3 linked regions of the Homo sapiens genome follow. The protein of the gene in region 2 interacts with the protein of the main gene of each other region in a pairwise test. Each region holds a gene or a part of one and is shown on either strand. Other genes may lie near its edges.

Region 1 (4,886 bases), on a different chromosome or scaffold from region 2:
TAGTATATTAATATTTTATGAATAATTATTAAGGTCTTTTTCTAGAATAGTCTGTGGTCTATGGGGTAAGGTACAGCCAGTTTGTAATAATGTTCATGGTACCATCCATGAAGAGTGATTGCCATGTTAAATCGGTTCTTAAGAACATGTTTTAAGGGAATGTCAAGCACTCTCTGTAGTGGAGACTCTAATGCTCACCAAATATTCCCTTAGTTGTCACAGATTTCCCAGTTGCTTTGCATTTAGCCAGGGCTATTGCCCAATACTGGCCAGTGGGCAATGGGCAGAAGCGATGCATGTGTCTCCTTCAGGCTAAACATAGAAGAGCAGATGAATGTCCTCCTTGGGTTCTCTTCTGCATGGTGATTGTAGCAGCCTTGTGCTATGATTACAAACCATACGGTGAAACAGCCTGGATCCTGAGTCACTGCATGGAGGTCTGTGGCTTTGGGGAGTCACCTGAACCTTCACTGGAATTTGTGTGGATGATAAATAAACCTTTGTTGTATTAAACCACTGAGATTTTGAGATTGTCTGTTACTATAGCATAACTTAGTCTAGCCTGATTAATATATTTTAGAATAGTGTTTCTAAAAGATTTTTGACCATCACTCACAATGAAAAATGTATTTTACATTGTGATCCAGTACACACACTCAGACACACACACGTGTGCACACACACATCTGAAACAAATATTTCAGGAAACAATACTTATCCTTATTATGCATGATTATTCTATTCTATTCTATTCTATTCTATTCTATTCTATCCTATCCTATCCTGTGATTTTCTTCTCTCCTACTGTATTCTAAATTACTCTATTTTATTAAAAACTGACCTCCTAAATTGATTTTACAACCCACTAATGGATGTAACTAGAGTTTGAAAAATACTGCTGTAGATAATAATTTGTGTATGATTTATATGTTAATTATAAGTCTTTTATGCATACTTAGTAAAGCAGGCTCTTTAGATCTCTCTTTGGCAATTTTTAAATTATCTGTTCCTAGAATGGATGAAAGTATTTTCATGTACAATATAGCACATCTCACATAATTTCTGGAGCATAATGTTTTATTGTTGAGCCTCCTAATTTACAACATGTCTTTTGAAATTTGCTTATAAAATTTTGTCACAGGGAGCAACAATGTTAACCTAATTATTATTCACTTATTTTCATTTTTTAAAATAAATGACTATAAATAACTGTCTCTTCAGTTAGGATCAGGGATATCATAAAAACATCACTAGCGAGACATATTTTAGTATTAATACTGATGCAAAAAATGAAATAGAGACCAAATATTTATATATATAGCACTATATATATTTTTATATATTGTATACTCATATCAAAACTTGCCATTTCTCTTAAGTAGCTGATAAGTTGCTTTCTAATTTTATAAATTACACCACACCTGTGAAAATATGGACAACTATTTTATATTTTTGCTGCTATATAAGACATTTAATGTTTATACAGAGAGCTGAAAAATTACAGAGGTGATGCAATGGGAATTGATGAACATTTTCACCTGAATTTCCACTGGCCTTTTTCAGCCAGAATCATCTTGATATTCTCTGAATATTCTTTTAGAAATGAGTATGGTATCTGTTTCTTCAATAAATACACATACACACATTATAGGTATATGTGTATATACATTTATACAAGTGTATGTATATATACACATATATACACACATGTATATAGTCTACATATGTATATATATTTCTGTGTGCACTTATACACACATGCACACATAATGTCCTTTGGTTTATTTTTAGACCATTAATGTGAAATGAATTTTCGATGATTTCCATTTATTTTTTCTTGAAATCTAAACTGGTTTAAAAAGACCTTTGCAACAAGTAATAAATTTCTTTTAAAAAATCATATTATTACACTTTAAAGCATGATATAGAGAAGGTCACAAGGTGTTAGAGAAGACAGAAATCCATGCCAATATGGGAGAAAAGAAAGCAAATGGGGTTTTCAGATTTCTCTCTTAAAGTGGCCACCTTCAGGGAATTGAACCTAGTGCTCTGTGTTGCTGGCTTGAAGGAAAGGTGCTCCAGGCTAAGCTCTCTGCTCCCACAGGAAGGGAGATGGTGCCTGGAGAGGCTGAAGACAAAGCATTTCTTGGGAATGGATGTGCATTGGGACTGGGGATGAGAAGCAATCTCTGGGTAGGTCACTTTGGTAATGTCTAGTTGGGAATGGAGTGGTGACTTTTGGGATTGACCATAACCTTCGGGTTGCATGTTAAATGGTCTCAGGGACTGCTTAGTTGCCGAGAAGGTGACTGTGTGCTTTCCTCACAGAGGTCTTCTCTCACCTCCTTCAGGCCTCAGGTTCCTCTGGGATGAATTGCATGGCCCTCTCTTGGCAGAAGAGGCTCCATACAACTGGAGAACTATGTGAAGATAGCGCTCGCATCTTCAAACGTGCCCCTTTCACCTCCCATGACTCTTCCGGGACAGAGGCCTTTTTCCCAACACATTAATGACATCAAACTGTGGGGGAGTATGAGATTTCTCTTCCATTATATTACTTGGAAATCAAAGCCCACATCTGTGTGTGTAAAGCTGTAAAAAAAAAAAAATACTCCTGTCGCCTCTCACTCAGATCAGATTGAGACACCTCAAAGTGACTTAGGAAAAGGGACATTCTTGTTTGAAAAGCTAGTAAACTACTCTTCACCAGGTGTGTTGCCAGGCTTGTCTTAATTTTTTTTCTCTTTTGGGTAGCTATGTGAGGAGCCCCAGAAAATTGGGGCTGGGATGAACTCTATACAAACTGAGAAAAATTTGGGCTGCTCTAGCGGATTTTAACATAACTCAGAGCAGCAGCTGGTGAGAGCACAGCCACGCTCTGTAAGTTTTATATTTGCCACGCCGGCTGAGTAGAGTGAATTATCTTGGCATTGGTAGTAAAATATCCAGCACTCATGCTTCCTGGATCTCTTTCCCCATGCAGTAACTAGGGCTCTCTATGAATGGCATCTTTTGAATCACATCACCTTAATCTACATCCCTGGTAAATCTCACTAAATTCAAAACATCGCTCCCCAAAGGATTTATAGCACAGTGTCTCCTGTGCTTTCAGAGATGTGGCGCTCACACCCTGTCCTCAGCTTTGATTTTCTTGTTATGTAACAGCCCCTTGTTTGAGACCATGGACAATTGTTCTTGGAGTCACTCTATGTGGCTTTTAAAATACGTTCTTTTCTCAGAAACAAAAAAAAAAATGAGGGGAAAGCTGTCCCAGTTTTTTTTTTTTTTTTTTTTTCAGGATATCACCCATTTGAATGACAGAAATAAAGAATTTAGAGTCACACATAGGACATGGATGTTGTTGGGAACGCTATATTTGGGGCATAGAGTAAAAAAGATTGTTTCCATTGTAATGAAAATAATCATTGACAGTGAGTGAAGCTTCAGATTAAGAAGACGGAATTGCCTGTACGGGTGATGGAATTGCTAGGTGCCTGCCTGAAACGTGGAGCGAGGACAGAGGCGGAGCTGGGGAGGGAGGGCGGTGGGAAAGGCGGATGTGCAGCGCTAGTTCTTGTTAAGGATGCTTTTCAGGCTTCTCTCCACGGCTTCGTCCAGCTCTTCCTCCAGCTCCTCTTTCTTGGACATGGCCAACTTGGACTGGTAATCCCGCACCACCTGGTCGATGTACGGGGCACTCTGAGTGCCATGCAGCATCAGGGTCCACTCCTTCAGCACCCCCTTCTGCGGGGCGCTGCCGACAAATCCCAGCTCCAGGGTCCAGGTGCCTCGGGCGTCTTCCCCCCACGTGTGAGTGGTCATGAAAGGCCACTTGTCAAAGCCCACCTTGGAGTCGTCATCCCTTGGACGCCGGCTCAGCAAAATGGACTTGGTGCCCATAGGGGAAGTCATGTTGATGTTCAGGTCTCCTCTTCTGGTTGCGTTGACCGTGATGACAGCCTGGACATGCTCCAGGTAGCGGACAAAATTTTCCTTCCCCTCACAGGCGTCGGTTGTGAGTGTCAGCACCAACTTGCCAGTGGATGGTATTTTCCTGAGGGCAGAGTGAAGAGGAGATAGGATAAGCAGTGGTGGGTGCACCTTACAAGGGATTTTGAGGGCAGCTTCAGGTGGCGGAAAGGGCAAGGGCTTTGGGGTTGATCAATCAGACCTGGGTTTAGTTCCCACACTGGCTGTGTGAGCCTGAGTAAGTTACTTATCTCTTTTTTTTTTTTTTTTTTTTTTTTTTGTCTTTTGAGACAGGGTCCCACTCTGTTGCCCGGGCTGGAGTGCAGTGGTGTGATCTCAGCTCACTGCAACCTTCAGCTCCTGGGTTCAAGTGATTCTCATGCCTCAGCCTCCCCAGTAGCCAGGGTTACAGGCATGTGCCACCACGCCTGGCTAATTTTTTGTATTTTTAGTAGAGACGGAGTTTCACCATGTTGGCCAGGCTGGTCTTGAACTCCTGGCCTCAAGTGATCCAGCTGCCTTGGCCTCCCAAAGTGCTGGGATTACAGGTGTGAGCCACCACGCCCGGCTGTGAGCAAGTTACTTACGCTTGGAACCTTCTGTGTGGAAGGAGAATGTAGTAGATGCTGTGATGTCCCTCCTGAGTCTCCTAAGTCCCTTCTGAGTTCACCTGCAGCTGAAGCTCCCTTGCACGTCCACTGCTTCCCACCCCAGGCACGAGAATCTCCCCGTGTTCCCCCTGGGCTTCCTCCCACCTCCGTGGAAGCCTGCACAGCCTGCGTGCAGGGCGGCCCAAAGGTGGCAGGGATTTAACCTTTGAGGGGTAGCTCTCTCCCAGTGACTGACAGGTTTTTACCCCGGTTTCTCTATTCCTCAGCGTGACAACTCAGTGTCCCTAGTGGGACTGAGCTCAGCTG
Region 2 (8,847 bases):
GTTGCTTATCAGGTGGGATGTTGGGCAGACAACCCGAGTTTTCTTAGGTCTAACAGAGGAGCTGCCTAGTCCCCACTGTAGAGATGTCCTGAACCTTGGGTTGGATGCAGTGACTAGACGGTATTTTGGGATCATCTTCCATGGAGCAGGATGAGTATCTTTGTGGGGAAAATACACCATATACTTGGCAGTCAGAAAGGCTAAGATAGACTTCTAGTACTCACCCATACTTGATTCTCCTCTTGTTCTGGGCACTTCCAAGGGACTATGGAATTTTTTAAAATGACATACTAGTCTTGCCCTTCAGGAGCTGTTAGACACACACACAACTATGAATTAAAATGTTTCCTGAGCAAACGTGCTTTTTAGCTCGCACCAGAATCACCTGGAGGGCTTGCTGGGGCCCTCCACATCTCCGAGTCTGGGGTGGGGGCCACATTTCTAACAAGTCCCAGGGTGATGCTGATACTGCTGGTTGGGGATTATACGTTCAGAACCACTGTTGCAATGGATCTGTTAGCACTTATTCAGTTCACGGTGCTAGTGAGTGACACAGAATGCACAGAAACCTTTACCCTCCACCCACCTGATGAGTAAATAGAGGCTAAAGCAAAATGATGGAAACAGGATAAAACCATTCCTTCAATTTTGCTATAGGAGTCACAAACCTCACTAAAGGCCAAAAGTTAAAACAATCAGGACTGGGTTGAGACGAGTTGGCAATACCAATCAAATATCTAAGCTGGTAACTGGAAACATGCCAGAAACAAGAATCTCCAGCAGCAATCACAGATGCCGTCCGAGACAAAAGAACTGGGCTTCAAAATGATACCCTTCTTCCCACCTTGGCTGACCCCCACCGTACACGATGGCGCTCTTAAGACACTCATGACCGCAATCGGCTTGCAAGTGTTGGTAATATTTGTTCATGTATTAACTGTGTTTTACTGGGCTTTTGCAAACAGCAGTTTTCCCAACTAGAGAGAGGCCTAACTGGCTTGAGGTCAGTGACAGCTAATTTGTTTAGGACTGAATTAAGCAAGGGTGTGTTTAAGAGGTGGAATTTTGTGGTGGTCTTGTCTTCCTCAGGATCTCAGAACATACACAATTTTTCTAGATTCTATATCACGAACCCAATTAAAACATGAGAACTCAGTTGAGGATGCAAAGAGGCTTACCTGGTGACCAGTTCCTGAGGAGGAAGAGGCTGGCTTTCTTTCCCCTAAGCCTTCTAGTGCTATTGTCTTGACTCGCCTTCCTGTGCCAGTCTGAATATGGTTACCCAAACCAATCTAGGCACGTCTTCCCTTTCAGTGTTGCTAAGAGCCAAAAAGTCCACCGTCCATCCCAACAGTAACGATGTGCCCAATTACTTCTATAATCTCACGTTCTCAAATGAAATAATCTCGAATCTAGGTGAATCTTGGTGGATATAACAGAATGATTTAAAAAAAAATAGAAACTCTTTGGTATGTGGCACATTTAACATTCTGTGAAAATTCGGGTGTTTCTCATCAACTGGTCCAGCCATCTCTAGTAAAAGCAGCAGCAAAGTAAGAGAACTGAGATGAACCAAAAACTGTCTGCCAAAAACATATATAAAATGCAGTTAATTGAGCATTTGGGGGCAGAAAGGGTGAAGCCTTCTCTGGGCTTTTGCCCTTTGTTGCTAGTTGAGGTCAGTGCGGGATAGGCAAGATGTTGGGAGGGTCAACACAAAGTAGTTGTGTGGAGATCTCCCTCCCAGAAGGATGCCTCACAGGGAAGGAACTTCCCATTAAAGCTATGTGGTCCTGAAGAGGAGACACTCCAGTTAGTCTGAGCAGCTTTTCTGCAAGCACAGGACTGGTTAATTCTGGCCACTCCCTGTCTGCCTAGTAGTAGAGAGGAGTGGAGGGTCCATTTTCTGGGGTTAAGAACTTTGTTGACTCCTGCAACTGTAAGGCAGCTTGAAATGGAACTGCACCTACCAGGTGGGAACAGACCACACGTCAGATATAACTGGCACCTGCCTTAAACGTGTGGCCAGTTTGCTTTAAAATTAGGGCACATGCTACCAAGCATCTTGCTGAATATGGCACTGCAGTGCTCATACAGGGGTATTCATGGTAAAGGTGGAAGTGGAGCCTTTGTCTTAACAGGGAACCAACTGAATTGGTTAAAATTTTGATCAGATTAGCAGCAATATGCAGTAGTAGACTCAACCAAGAACCACAGACTTAGTTAGACATAATCTTGGATATATTATCCAAGGCTTATTATACAGAGTATGTTCAGAGGCCTGGCAGCATCAGCATCACCTGGCAGCTTGTCAGAAACACTCACTCTTAGGTCCCACCCCAGAACTTCTTAATCAGAAATATGCATTTTCCCTTAAATCCCCAGGTGCTACTTCTGCACACACAAGGATGACAAACACTGACACATACCACGGACTACCTCAACTAAAGACCAGTGTCAGTAATGGCTCAGGGAGGAGAGAAACAGCCCACTACTAGCTACACCTACTAGTTTCATAGTTCCAAGTTATATGTACCAATCTTCACTGCCAGTAGATCATGTGTGGTGCACAGAGGCAGAAGACAAAGGTTGCCCTTCACAGACCTGAGGTTTAAGCTTCAGCTGAAGCTTCGGAGTAAAAGTATCAAATAATTTTATTATGAAAGATAAGCCATTTATTGACCATTCACTTTTCTAAAAAAACACAAATGTGAGAATAAAATAAACATACCTAAGACTCACTGGCCCCTCCAGGACAGGAAGCAGCCCTGGACAGAGAGCCTGCAAACGAGTTTCCTTATGCCTAATGTCTGAACTTCTCATACATTCTAGGATTTCATGTTTCGTTACAAAGGAAAGGAAACTGGCTAGAAGATTCATGTACAAGAAGGTCACAACTTTAAAGCTATCTGACGCTAATGACTTGTACAATCTGGTTTGCAAACTCTGAGAGACAGTATCAAATAAGCACTGTCAAAGACTACTCCCAGCTAATCTTTACTGTCATTTTTCTTTGAAATTGTCTTTGGGACTGGCTATGTTCTCACTGTAGCTTCCGTTTATCCCACAGCACAAACCCTAAAGTCCATGTGCAGTCTCCATGTTCAAGTATAAAAGTCTGTTTCAGGACAACCCTGGGTTGCTGTAGTGTTTCTCTCTCTGTAGTGTCTACTTGGTGTCATGCCCTTGGACAGGCTGGCCAAATGGCAGCACAATGCAGGGGGTGACACGGTCAACTCTCCCACTGCCGAACTTGCTCCCCTTTCAATCTGGTCACTGCCCATGGTCAAGGTTGAAATCTTGAGATCAGTGACGACCTTGGCCTATCTTCAGTCTGAAGTTGCACTCTTATGTAACCGAATCCATTTCTTCACCAAAAATTAGCTTTCAAAAGGTGTCTGGCGTATTCTAAAAAGGAAAGATAATCATATCAAAATGTTATTTATTGATAACAGACTATATTCACTTTTATGTTCCTAAAGGAATTTACAATTAAAAAGAAAGACTTAAAATGAATGTTTTACACTCCATATTGGACTCAAGGGCTTCTCTCAATAGAGGAACAAAAAGACAGTCCTGATGCTCTTGCGTTGCTCATCACTGACACTCAAAACGCCCTAGTCAATTCACCTCACTTACTGATTATAACAGGCATCTCAGAGAATCTTAAAAAGAACACCAAATCAGAATGAAGGGATAAAACATATCCCAGCAGTCACCAACAACGGCGAAAAGTCCACTGCTAACTTCATCGCTGCTCCTACTAATGTCTCCCAAAACCTGCAAAAAGCATTCTTTTGTACATCTACAGCTGTTTAAAATTACATTTAATTCCAAATTTAATTTAAAAAGGGGGAGTGTTCCTAACAGAAGAATCCCATGGTAATTGATAGTGGTAAACAAACTCCTTCTAAATTCATGGAAATCGAGTCGCACTCAAAGCAGACTCTGAATCCCATTTAGGATATCACTTCAGAAGGCACTGCTTGATTTTAAATAAAATTGCAAGCCTAAGTTAACTCATGTCCAGGAGAGACTCATTTAAACATTTCAGCAAAATAAGACTTTCATTTGAATCCCCTTTATGCACACCAATCATCCCAGCTGATTTCTAATGAAGCATCTATCCATAGCTTACATGTTTAGCGCTGGTGGAACAGAAAATCAGTCACTGACACAGGAAACTGCTACTAATTAGTTCTCAGTAAAAAGTGACTTATAACAGTAGGTGAAGTCCATCTGCAGTAAATACTTCCTGAATGATCCTCAATTACGGCCTACCCCATTCCTATCCATTTTACATATCTACAAGCCAGAGATGCATACTCCTGGACAGAAGATAGGATACTGGACCTTAGGAAGTGTCCTGAGATGGAGCTGGAGGGTCCTGGCCTTCGGGCTCTGGAGGGGGTGCTGGCACAGCTGCTTTTTTCTGGGCCGCCAGGAACTCATGAATTGCTCGTTCTATTTGTGGCCTGAAGATGTGGTTAAGTTTTGGATCCACCACCTGAGAAATAATCCTGTCTACTCCAGCTTCCAACATCCCTGACCTTGTGGAGACAAACAGATCATTCTGTTATTTAGTTCCTTCGGGATTCATCTTTAGCCCCAATAAGTGTCACGTGCGAGCCCAATAAATGTCCACCTTCAAAGCTACAGCCCTTCTAGGGAGTTTAGAGGTCAATCCACTTACCATATACAGCTCACGCTATTTTCACTTTTGAGGGGTAATTCTCAACCAGCAGCTGTTATTCCTACTGCACAATCTCACCCACAATCACCCAACCTTGTACAAAAGAATCAAAAACAAAACTAAGTGAGTTGCTCCAAAACAACAAACAAATGACAGCATGGTGAGAAAGAGTTTGACACGTGTGGCACTGAAAAGCTTCCTCGTACTGTCAAAGCCAGTAAGCCCCGAATTGGACTCCATTTCCTTCAACATTTATTCTCCTAATAGCCTAAGCAGAAGTAGCTCCAGCAGCAACCTGTTTACTAATCCTTAAAATTTAAACAAGGCCGATCAGTCAGGGCTGGGAGTATTTACATCACCAGCAATTCACCATGGCCTTCAGCTGTAGTTGCTACCTGTAACACATAATAAGCAACTTGGAAGCAAACAAGAAATAGACAAACAAATTAGTTCCAAGCTCCTAGAGGGCTAAATTACATCCCCGATCCTTTCTGAAGTAGAGCAAAAATCAGGGCATATCAATGTCTATATTCAAACACTTGGGACAGGGTACTGGAAATGATGGTGAGAGGAAACAAATCATATTTGGACAGTCTGGAAAATAGCCCGTAAGGTTCAAAGTGAAGTGTTCTTCTCAAAGGACTGAAATATTCCAATACCATCACAAGCATGTGGGCAGGTTTTACTTATTTTCCCGTAGACTTGAGACTTCAGAGGCCATTTAAGCCTTCGGGTAAAAATAGGCTGGGCAGCAAGTGGGCAAATGGTCTGTCAGGGTACAGCAAAGGAAAGACATGAGTAAATGTACATCATGACAAAGAAGATAAGAAACAGGCTGTGAACTGGGAAAGATGATTAGTGTGTAAAGTGCTCCCTGGATTCAATGGTAACTAACAGCTTATCGACAGGAAGCCTAGATGTAAATACACCACCACTAGAGCACTGAAGGGCACATTTTCAGGTAGACCAGGCATTAGACAGTATCGGCCCTTAGTGATGAGCATCGTTAAATACAGCAAAGTTAGCATCCGGCTATGGGATGCTAACAAAGGAAAGCCACCTCTCCTCAGTCACAAGCCAATACCTTTCCAACTTTACCAAACCACTTCCTGAGTCGGATTCACAGGGTCCTTTACCAGATGTAAAAGCTTGATATTATCAACTAAATGCCTGTGTCCCCCAGACTTCCTATGTTGAAATCTAATCCTTAATGTGATGGCCTTTGGAGGTAGGGCCTTTGGGAGGCGATCGGGTCATGGGGGCAGAGCCTCCGCGAATGCAATTTATGCCCTTACAAAAGGGACCCCAGGAAGTTAGCGAGCTCTCTTTCCACCACATGAGAAGAACAAGCAGTTGGCAGTCTGCTGCCTGCAAGAAGGCCTTCCCCTGAACCTGACCATGCTGGCATCTTGGTCTTGGACTTCTAGCCTCCAGAATGGTGAGAAGTAAATTTCCATTGTTTACAAGCCACCTAGTCTACGGCGCCTTGTTAAAGCATCCCCAACTGACCAAAACCCCTGATCAGGGGAAACAAACTACCAAGGGAGTGCAGCTCACTTTCCTGGAGATTCTTAAACTTTTGAGGAAAACATAAAATCTTGTCAGGAGCCCAATGTACAAGATGGAAAAAACAAATATTGTACAGTTACAAGAGTTATTCGTCATAATTCAGTGCAATAGCACAGGCTAATTTCCTGTTAAACCCTCTAGGCTGTGGCACTGGGTTACAGCATCTGGGCCAGAACAGCCAGGCCAGTGAGCCAATGCTCTGAAGGCCTGCAGTGTCCACCTGGGGAGAGCACCTGGGGGCAAGCAGAAAGTCTGCGTTTCGAAACTCCAGTAGATTTTGCCTCAAATTCAAAATGCTAGCAAGAATTGTGGAGAAATGTCCCAGTATTAAAGCCAAGTTCATGTTTTCAGGTTAAACACATTCTAAGTCAAATCAAAAAGCAGGGAAAAAAAAAAAAACAACAACTTCACAGAGGTGGTAAAAACTATGCAGAGAGGAAATGATTAGTATAAAAGTCAGGAATATGGAAAACTTCCGAAAGGAGGAAAGTACATCCGGAGCTAGGCTGTTTCGGGGGTGTGAGTCCATTTCTCGATCTGGGTGATCAAGGGATGTTCTAATTATCTGTTTCACTGAACTTCTGTGCACTTTTCCGTATTACAATTCCTACTAAAGAAATGCAAGAGGAAGCGCCACATGCATACCTCTAGAATGACATCCATGCTCATTACAGAAATCAAAGCAATGTTAACAGCCTTCATACAATCATGGCAACTTTCCAAATATTTCAGAATGTTCAGTGTTTTGATTTACTCAAGACAGGGTAAACACAAGTGACTTTAGCTGTGAAACAGGCTTTTCATGAGGATGAGTGATATATGTAAAGACCAGTGCCAGACATGTAATAAAGAGTTGCTCAGTAAGGGGCAGCTACTGTCCCCTTCTTTCTGAAAGAGCCCGGTGCCACCAGTCTGTTCTCTGGAGAAAGGGAAAGGCACTCGGTACTGACTCCAGAATGACAAGGCACTGGGCATCTTCTGCTATCAGGCTTCTTCCCAGCATTCAGCCATATTGGAAGTACTAGCTTGTTAGTAAAACACTTTTAAAAACTTTAGAAATCTTAAAATCGCTGCATATTCACAGGAAGTTGTGAAGAAGAGTCCAGGGAGTTCCACACGCACCCTTCACCCAGCCAGCTCTAATGTCAGCACCTTGCGTAACTAGTGCAATATCAAAACCAGGAAAATGACACTGGTCCAATCCAGACCTTATTTAGACTTCAGTTACACTTGCACTTATTTGTGTGTGTAGCTCCGTGCGACTTTACCATACGAGCTGTTGCACGTGAGCACAGCACAATTCAGTGACACTTAACTGCACCATTGCAAGCTCCCCCTTGTGCTACCACTTGCAAGTCACACTCACCCCCTCCTCCCATCCGTAACCCCAGGCAATCACTAATGTGTTCTCCCATTTCTGTACCCTCCTCCACCTCCACTTTTGTGCGTCACTCAGATAAGCTATCAATAGCACCTTTATTAACTAAGGTTCAGTTTGTTACTGTGAAGTACGATACTTTATTAAGACTATGCCTTCCTGAAAGCTGTCACCATTACACTTTAGAGGTGGCAGTCCTGGTGGACTCAAAGAATTTATTTAGTTCACATTCACCTGTGAGAATAAAGATCCAACTCCTCTTGCCCAAGATCCAAACCCTGATATCTTGGTATAAAACTCACATATATGTTTGGACAACACTGAAACTTCAAAGAGCAGGGAAAATGTCTCACGATTTGGAATGCCTTTTGATGCACCCAGTAGAGATGCACACAGGAGGCCTTCACAGGCTGCAGAAACTGGAATTTCAACTGAGTACTTTGCTTCCTTTAACCTTAATTATAACAAAAGAGCAGACTGCTGCAACTCCTAAGTGATACTTGATATAAAGTCCCATCAACCTTGACTAAACAGAGACCTCAACCTTCTTGTGCATCACACTTGTGATGACTGCCTTTTCAAAAGCTTTAAATTCTGCTTACTTACTGAACCACACTCTGCCTCAGACCATTTCGCAACTGGTTTTTGTTCATCGTAGGATTCCATTCCTGCTTGTCCAGATGTGTTGACACAAAATTATCCACTTTCTGCCTCAGGTTTTGGTAAGCTGGCTAAAATGTTAAAAAGAGGAGGCAAGGTCAGAAGTTATATGCACCAAAGTTTTGAACTTAGTCTCTCAGAACACTGCTTTTCACAGAAACGTTATTAAGTCTAAATACACTTCCACTGTGCATGAAGATCACCATGCAATGTGGCAGTCAGGAATTAATGGTTAACACAAGTGCCCACCTGATGGTGGGTGGGCACAATGCCAGGCGCTTTACTTATATTATTCCATTTGCTTTTAAGTAACTCTACATGCAGCAGGCCTGACATCAACCCACAGCCTGGACCCACACCTGGGCAGCCTGCAGCCAAGCCACCAGCTGAAGCCTTCCTAGCTCAGCTGAACTTTGGTAGACCTGCCGCCCCATGAACATGTGAACAAGTGCTGGTTATAAGCTGCTGAGATTCAGTTTGCTATGCAGCATTACTGCGGCAAAGTTTGCTAACAGTCAGGGAAATGAAGTTGACAAAGGAACCAGCA
Region 3 (8,847 bases), on a different chromosome or scaffold from region 2:
TTTGGGGTGGGGGGGAACAAAAAAGAGGGTGAGAATTTTCTTCTAGTTTTCTAGTTTCTTAGCAAAAGTTCCTTTTGAGAACCTTCATTTTTACCATGACTTAAACAAGGAGGAGTGTTTCCACATCTTTTTTTTTGAGACGCAGTCTTGCTCTGTCACCTGGGCTGGAGTGCAGTGGCGTGATCCTGGCTCACTGCAACCTCCGCCTCCCAGGTTCAAGCCATTCTCCTACCTCAGCCTCCCAAGTAGCTGGGACTACAGGCGCCCGCCACCACACCCAGCCAATTTTTGTATTTTTAGTAGAGACGGGGTTTCACCATGTTGGCCAGGATGGTCTCGCTCTCTTGACCTCATGATTCGCCCGCCTCGGCCTCCTAAAGTGCTGGGAATTACAGGTGTGAGCCACTTACATCTTAATATAATAATGTATGTCTTTAAATACATCAAAATAATATAAATGCCTTGCATATCATAAATTTCAATTAATGTATCCTTCACCCTCCTCTCCCCACACCAACTAAGGAGATGTTGGCACAAAACTTGATCCATTCCAGAATCAGGTAAAGAAAATAATTATGAACCCTAAAGGGATGGAGCCATGACTGTTAGCACCTTCTCACAATAGCAACTTCCAGGAAAGCTTAGGGACCAGTTTTGAAAATTGAAGGAAATTCTCTTTTTTTTTTTTTTAAGAGACAGGGTTTCACTCTGTCACCCAGGCTGGACTGCAGTGGCGCGATCATGGATCACTGCAGCCTAGAACTCCTGAGCTCAAGCAAGCCTCCTGCCTCAGCCTCCCTAGTAGCTGGGACTGCAGGTGAAAGCCACTATGCCCAGCTAACTTAAACAATTTTTTTTGTTGTTGTTGTTCATACAGCATCTCACTATGTTACCCAGGCTCTTCATAATAGTTTTTGTTGTTGTTGTTGTTTGTTTGTTTTTGTTTTTGTTTTTTGAGACGGAGTCTCACTCTACTGCCCTGCCAGAGTGCAGCGACACGATCTTGCTCCCTGCAACCTCTGCCTCCTGAGTTCAAACGATTTTCATGCCTCAGCCTCCCGAGTAGCTGGGATTACATGCATGTGTCATCATGCCAGGCTAATTTTTGTATTTTTAGTAGAGACGGGGTTTCACCATGTTGGCCAGGCTGGTCTTCAACTCCTGACCTCAAGTGATCCACCCACTTTGGCTTTCCAATGTGCTGGGATTACAGGCATGAGCCGCAGCAGCTGGCCTCATATAGTTTTATATGAAGAGTTTTATTCCAAGCTCCAAGAGGTTGTTGAAAGACAAATTATCAGGAGATCTAGAATTCTGTTAGTGTTACCACTGACTGGAAAAAATCAGTGGTAACTTTTCTTTACTGTTCTCTGATCCTTGCTCCCAGTTCTTAAAGCTGATTTACATGATGAAGCTAGTGGTTGGCCAGGAAATAGCTTATATTTGCAGAATCCTCTTCCTTCTGCATGTCATGGTGATGGTATCAGGAAACATGAGGACTCAGTAACTATAGGGTAACTCAGTACATTTTACTTTGGGGTCTTTGTCTATTTGTTTGCAAAAAAACTGCTGAATTATTTTCTTGAGATTTGGAATTTAATACACTTTAGGGGTTTTATAATAAATTAATGAAACTGAAATCACCTTGATACAAAACAATACTGACATTTTATATCATAAAGCAACTTTTCCACATGTTTGCTATTGTAAGAAATATGTTAACCATCTTGTAAAATGCCTAATTCCTAGGGCAAGAAAAATTCTTAGCCAGAGGTATTTAGAATGTCTATTTCATTACTTGAACATTTTCTCTTTTTTTGAAAACTGGAAAATTTGGGACATATTCCCCATTACTTGAGATAATACTTATTGAGTACTTAGTGTAGGTTAGCAACTGTTCTAAGAGTTTTATGTAAATTATAACTATTTAATTCTCATAAGTTTATATATGTTTAATCCTCCTTATAATCATGAGAGTGGTGTTAATTATCCTCCCTCCAAGTTTGCAAATAAAGAGGTTGATACATATAAAGATTATAACTTGCCTAGATGGATTTGCAGAAAGATTTATTACTAGCAATTTGTTATATTATTTTGCATCTCTTTTATTGTTTACATTTTCACGCTTTAGGACAACGTCGCCCATACTCTGTGTTTGATAAGAAAAGTCAATCTTTGAGTGGTAATTGAATGGGTAAGAAACGTTTCTGAAAGTTTTCACATCCCTAAAAACATTTTGAGAATGCTTATCTGAGGCCATCCCTGAATTTTTAGCCCCAGAGCCACCAATTTGGAATTTTCTGTGTATACTTAAGTTTACCTTAAGAAATGGTCACTTCCTTTGAAGTGGAAAATCTCTTAAGATCTCCTGCTTCTCATCCATAAATCCTTTCTCAGCAGAGACTCATGGATGGGCTAGAAGCTATATTCAGTCATCTTTAGAAGCACATGGGATATTGATCAAAGGGGTGGGGTGGTGGGAAGGTGAGGGGTGGTTGAGTGTACTCCTTGGGTGTCATGGCTGGGATCTCAGTGTCCCTTCTTTTCTGCTTATTTGTACTTATTGAGAAGTCTGTCTTCCATTTTCTCCTTCCCCATGAACAAGTGTGTGAATTATTTGGAGGCAAGTTGTCTTGTTTTTAAATTTTTACTGCCCTAACTTTGACTGTGGTGCTTCACACATGTGAATGCGCTTGGGTTGAAATTTTATTCGTTTTACCATTAGTAATTATTTGAATCAAAGAAAAATCCACATAATTATTCAGTTTAACTGGCCATTTAGTTTTATAGCATTTGAAATAGAAATTGTTTTTAGTTCTAGAGACTAATTTGGCATAATTTAAAAATCTTGGTAGTTTTGGAAACTTGAACCCAATGAATTCATAAATGTTAGTTAAATTTTGAATTATGTATCTCTAACTCTTCTTGGTACCTGAAATATCCTAGTTTCTTCCGTGAGGAAAATCTCAGAATAGCACGCCATGTTATGATGTTTTAAAACGAGTGAGAATTTTGGATGTTATGAGTTCTGGTAGCTGTTTGGTAACTTAGTTTTATATTAGAAAGGTTAAGTAGCATGCCCGAGGTCATACACTGATAAACATGAGGCCAATGATTAGATATGTCTGACTTCACATTCCACATATTTCCTTACACTGTTTTGCAGTGTAAATAGGTGGTTAAGAAGATACCAAAGTAGATCTCTGGTTCATCTTCTGAGAAGCAGAACTAGAATTCTCCTGGCTAGCAGTTATCCATCTAGTGCATATGTATCTAGAGCTGGCCAGGCCTTTAGTTTACAAAATAAATAGAAAGCCTTGTCCCCACTCTGGAGGAGCTTGCTGCCTTGTTAGAAGGTGAGATATGTTCGAATAGAACATTTGGGGAAACCATTTGAGACCTGGTATAATGAAGTGCTAAGATTGTGGGCAAGGTGGGGAGGAGGTAGGCCTTCCTGACTAGTTTAGGCTACAATAGTTGGGAAGACTGCAAGAAGCCAGCAGGCTTCAGTCATGCCCTAAAAGAGCGATTGGTTTAGAAAAAAAACAAAAGGGAACTACTAACATGTATTCTATTCTAGGCAGGTGTCAGGCAAAGTTGTATCTTATTTTGGTCTCACTAGATTCTTGCAAAGCTTATCTGCATATCCAGGTTTTATAAAAGGTTAAGAAACTGAAGCTCCTAGAAGTAAATGAGCCCTTAGTTATCAAATATTGTCTGCATTGTGCAACTTCTTTTTTAGCCCGTAGTCTTTGTTTTCATACTTTAGTTTTAGAGAATTACTCCAAATTCATCATGATTGAAGACAATAAGGAGAACAAAGACCATTCCTTAGAAAGGGGAAGAGCAAGTCTCATTTTTTCCTTAAAGAATGAAGTTGGAGGACTTATAAAAGCCCTGAAAATCTTTCAGGTAAGCATTTTCTGTATTTTTGCACAGAATTCTTCTAGAAATGAATCTCTAAAACTATATTTAAAATATAGGGCAACATAGCAAGACCCTATCTCTTAAAAAAAAACAAATTTAGCTGGGTGTGGTGGTGGACTCCTGTAGTTCCAGCTACCTGGGAGGCTGGGGTGGGAGGATTGCTTCAGTCCGGGAGTCCAGGGTTACAGTGAGTGAGCTATGATCACACCACTGCACTCTAGCCTAGGTATCAGAGTGAGATTTTCTCTCTATATATATATCTATATTTATATATAGATAAAATATATAAATATATAATTTTTATATATTATATATATAAATTATTGTAAACTCTTCAGAGATGGAGTACAAACATTTGTTAAGAACTTACATTTCTAAAATAGTGCTGAATTCTAACAAGGGATACAAACAATTTACAGAAGAGGAGATACAAATAGCTACTTCGAGAAATGGGGGAGAAAAGATTCACTTTATAGATTTTAGAGAAGCAAATTTTAATTTTATTTTAATAAAATATTAAAATTTTATCAATATATAATCATATATTATTAATTATATACTTGAGATTTAATGATATAGTCATAGTATATTTAATGATATTATTTTCATGTAGCAAAGATTCTATAATGACAGTGTCTCCTATTGTCAGAACTTCATTGCATTGGAGGTACATTACCCTCCAATGCACCTTTGGCACAAGGATAAATTTGTGTACCATGTAGGGAAACTATCTGGTAATATGTATTATGAGCCTTAAAATGTTCATATTTTTGACCCATAATTCTAATTTCATAAATCTGTCTTAAAAATATGGATCAGTCAGGCAGAACACGAATATTTATTGAGTCCTTACTATGTGTCAGGTACCACACCAGACACTAAGGATGTGGAGCTGGACAAAGTAAACACAGTGCCTGTCCTCACAGAGTATGTAATCTAGTGGGGAAGGCAACATTAAACAAACAACTGCAGTAAGTGAATAATCACTATGTGTAAAGTGACATGAAACAGAAATACCAGATATTCTGACAGCATTGAACTTGGGGGACCTAACTGAGTTTAAGGGCTCAGGGACACACAAAGATTTATTGTTTATAGGAACTAAAAATTATAAATAAGCCACTTGTCCTAATATAGGGGATGTTGAATTGTGATAGCAGAACACCACTGTGGTTAAGCTCTGGTCTCCAGAGACAGGCCACCTGGATTCATATCCTTGCTCTGTCAGTTATTACCTGGGTGATCGTGGGCAAATTGATTAATCTCTCCACACTTCATGATTTATGTCCATAAAATGAGAACTCTACCTACCTCATAGGGTCATTGTGAGCATTAGTAGAGTTAATATCTCTAAAATGCTTAGGATGGTACAGTACAAAGTAAGTGAACAATAGATGTTAGCTATGTTAATAATCATATGACATACTATTATATAGCTGTTTGCAAAGAATATTTCAAAGAATTAAAAATCTTAAATATAGATAGTCTAGAAGAGCTTGTAATGAAAAGCATCAGTTTTCTTACCTAACACATACCATATTCTCAGTCCCACTCCCTAGAGGCAACCTCTTTTAACTATTTCTGGTCGTTAGTTTTTTTGGTGGTGAGTTTATGAAATCTAAACATTGCTCTTATATGTCTTTTCAAGTTATCAACTTCACACTATATTCATTTACTTTCTATTATGAACAATGATACTGATACCACCTCCCTCCCTTCCCTCTCCCAGTCCTTCCAAATCTGATACTTTTATTATTACTTTTAGCTATTCTATTGATTACCTTTGGGTCTTTAAATAAAATACCTGTATGTCTTCTTCCATCAGCTTTTTTTAAATTTAATTTTTAATCGAAGAATAATTGTGCATAGCTTAAAAACAACTCAACCTGTACTATAAAACATATTTTTAAAAAAGTAGTGTTTTGCTCCATCTCTCTTCATTCCAAAGTTCCATTTAATTTTTTTGCAACCTTGTGTGCAGAAGCTTGAGTTAATCACACTCATTAAATCACGTGTACACTATCATCGTTGATTTGTGCAACCTCTTCCTGTTTTATTTCATTCTTGAATTCTATCTCCATTTCTCTCTTCTGATAGAGAGCTGCTCTCATGTTTGATATGTACATTGAATTACTTTGTCTGCACTTTAGAATATGTAGTCTTTGTGTGTGCGTATATTAGTAATTTATATAATCATATTGTGCTATAAAGATTCTTTTTCCCATCCAGCACTGTGTTTTTAAGACCTATGCACGCTGCTGTGTGAACATCTCATTCATTCTTCTAACTGCTACATGGTGTTCTCTGGGTGTGTCTCCACCTGCCTAGTGGAGACAACCTAGTTATCCCCTGCCTAGTGGAGGCAACCATTTTCAACTCTTTAAACTATTTTTCTAATATTTACTTCCACACTTATAAGTTATATGCTTATTCTGCTTCTACTTCTTGATTTCTAGAATTATAGGTAATTATCTATTGATTTTCAACAATGAAGTAAAAATTTAGGTTTCTTGACACAACTCCCCTTCCGATGGCCTCTTCAACTTCTTTTCCACTCGTCTTCCCAATGTATTTGTGTCCCGGTTTTTGGCTCTGTCAATCTTTAGTGTCTTTATTATTAAGATTATGTAAATATTGTTTGAAGAAGAGCCTTAGTATCCACCTTTGTGACTCTTCCTTTCTTGGGCAACAGGATTACAGCATAGTGTTTAAGCACATGGACTGTGGAGCTGGACAGACTAGATTTGAATTCCGGCTCTGACACTTGTCACCTGTGTGCTTCTGGCCAAACTGCTTAACCTCTCTATGCCTCTGTTTCTGTAACTGAAATGTCTGATAGGGAATGTTTCACTTACTACTTCTACTTTATCTGAATTTTCCAGACCGTATTTTTCTTCCAGATGAACTTGGAAATTATTTAATTACATTTCCTCACCAAATTCCATTGAGATTTTAATTTAGGAATGATTGACATTTTTGCATCTTTTTTTTTCTCCAAAGACATAGTTTAGCTTTATATTTATTCAAGTCATCATTTAGAAAATATTTACAAATGCATTATTAATGTAAAAATTTATAAGAAATAGATGAAATGAAACTCTTCTTTACACCTGATCAATCCCAATATATTTTGTAACTGACTTCTATTGATTCTGTGATAAATTATATGTTCCCAGATAAACCCTGCCTATTCTAATTTTCTAACATCCTCTATCACTCACTCCTCTTTCTTGTTAGCTCATGTTCCCTGATAATATTTTTTTTTTTTTTTTTGAGAAAGGGTCTCACTTTGTCACCCAGGCTGGAGTGCAGTGGCACAATCACAGCTCACTGTAGCCTTAACCTCCTGGTCTCAAGTGACCCTCCCACCTCAGTATCCCGAGTAGCTGGGACTACTGGTGTGCGCCACTACGCCTGGCTAATTTATTATTTTTTGTAGAGACAGGGTCTTGCTATGTGGTCCAGGCTGGTCCTGAACTCCTGGGCTCAAGTGATTCTTCCACCTTGGCCTCCCAGAGTGTTGGAATTACAGGCGTGAGCCACCACGCCTGGCCTATTCTATCTATTCTTTAAGATTCATTTAAGTTCCCACCTGCTCCATGAAACTTTCTACTCTCTCTTAAGTCGTAATGCTTTTCCCTTTGCTGAGCACCTGCATCCGAACACTCTTTACTTTATTTTCTTAATCTTCCATGTGTTCACCAACTAGATTCTAAATTCCTTTATGTCTTCCCTTTATATTCTTCGCAGCCCTTACCTAGTTACACAGGTGTTCATTAAGTTATTTTAGGATGCACTGGTTAGTATTGGAGATTATCTGCTCTAACCTTCTCATTGTTTTAGATGAAAAAACTATAGGGTGATTAGTGCTCATGTTTCATTATCATGTCCCCAGCACTCTTCCTCAGCTACCCAAATTGGTAAGAGAACATACCCTCCTCCCACACTTATACACAGAGCACCCCCATCTTAGGCTGACTTGGGAGAGGTCAGAAGAGGAGATCTGGTTCAGCTGTTACTAAGATTGTAGCTTAAGAGATTTGAGGTATTAAATACTCTGTGCTCAAGCTGTTCATCTAATTTAATTAAATGGATTTTTGAAAGGGAAACTCTTCTTTCTCCAGGACTAACATTGGTATCACTTTTTGAAAACTAGCTTTTATTTATGAGAATTTTCAAAAGATTCCTCTTACCCAGGAAACTTAATAATATTTTGATTTGAATTCTGATTAATTCTGACATCTGAAGGACCTCTAGTGTGTGTTATTTTATTGGTTTCTGGAGGATGGGATGAATTTTGAAAAGTTTTCTAATACATAATTTTTAAGAAGGAATTATTTTGTTGTTGGCAGCACTAAAAACAGTCTTTTTCCCTTTGCTGTTCTGAGAAGTGTGAATCTGATTTTTAGTGGTAATTAAAGTAGCCTGCTCAAAGACTATTAACATTTGAGGCAGTTACATGAAATCTTTTCCCTGTGCTTTACACAGGAGAAGCATGTGAATCTGTTACATATCGAGTCCCGAAAATCAAAAAGAAGAAACTCAGAATTTGAGATTTTTGTTGACTGTGACATCAACAGAGAACAATTGAATGATATTTTTCATCTGCTGAAGTCTCATACCAATGTTCTCTCTGTGAATCTACCAGATAATTTTACTTTGAAGGAAGATGGTAAGTTCAAAATGTGAAAATACTACTTAGAAGATGAAACACCTAATGTGTGTCCAGCCTTATATTTATCTTGAAGACATTAAAATAATAAAACACAAGCTCTCCAAATTGCTTACAGTCTGATAGTGAAGGGAACACAAAATATAGTTGCTCCAGATACCAAAGAAAAATTATAAAGCAACATTTGATCAAGTGTAAGAGAAATGAAAAAGAAAATCTTGAGTATAAGAAACAGCTGGGTGTGGTGG

What was found. Proteins that work in one complex are often made in the same cells at the same time.
Region 1: the proteins of BOD1 (region 2) and PCSK2 interact in binary tests that used the Homo sapiens proteins (3 or more experiments, as listed by UniProt).
Region 3: the proteins of BOD1 (region 2) and TPH1 interact in binary tests that used the Homo sapiens proteins (3 or more experiments, as listed by UniProt).

Annotation. Positions count from the first base shown.
Region 1 is NC_000020.11:17,480,752-17,485,637, reverse strand, and holds the end of PCSK2 (neuroendocrine convertase 2 isoform 1 preproprotein), read right to left. Parts: intron 4,055-4,886; coding exon 3,568-4,054; 3' UTR 1,060-3,567; downstream 1-1,059. UniProt on the Homo sapiens protein: Serine endopeptidase which is involved in the processing of hormone and other protein precursors at sites comprised of pairs of basic amino acid residues. Responsible for the release of glucagon from proglucagon in pancreatic A cells.
Region 2 is NC_000005.10:173,604,885-173,613,731, forward strand, and holds the end of BOD1 (biorientation of chromosomes in cell division protein 1), read right to left. Parts: intron 8,372-8,847; coding exon 8,247-8,371; exon of another isoform or gene 8,243-8,246; intron 4,787-8,242; exon of another isoform or gene 4,694-4,786; intron 4,551-4,693; coding exon 4,355-4,550; 3' UTR 4,354-4,354; intron 3,409-4,353; coding exon of another isoform or gene 3,381-3,408; 3' UTR 2,261-3,380; downstream 1-2,260. UniProt on the Homo sapiens protein: Required for proper chromosome biorientation through the detection or correction of syntelic attachments in mitotic spindles.
Region 3 is NC_000011.10:18,035,711-18,044,557, reverse strand, and holds part of TPH1 (tryptophan 5-hydroxylase 1), read left to right. Parts: intron 1-3,769; 5' UTR 3,770-3,795; coding exon 3,796-3,912; intron 3,913-8,415; coding exon 8,416-8,599; intron 8,600-8,847. UniProt on the Homo sapiens protein: Oxidizes L-tryptophan to 5-hydroxy-l-tryptophan in the rate-determining step of serotonin biosynthesis.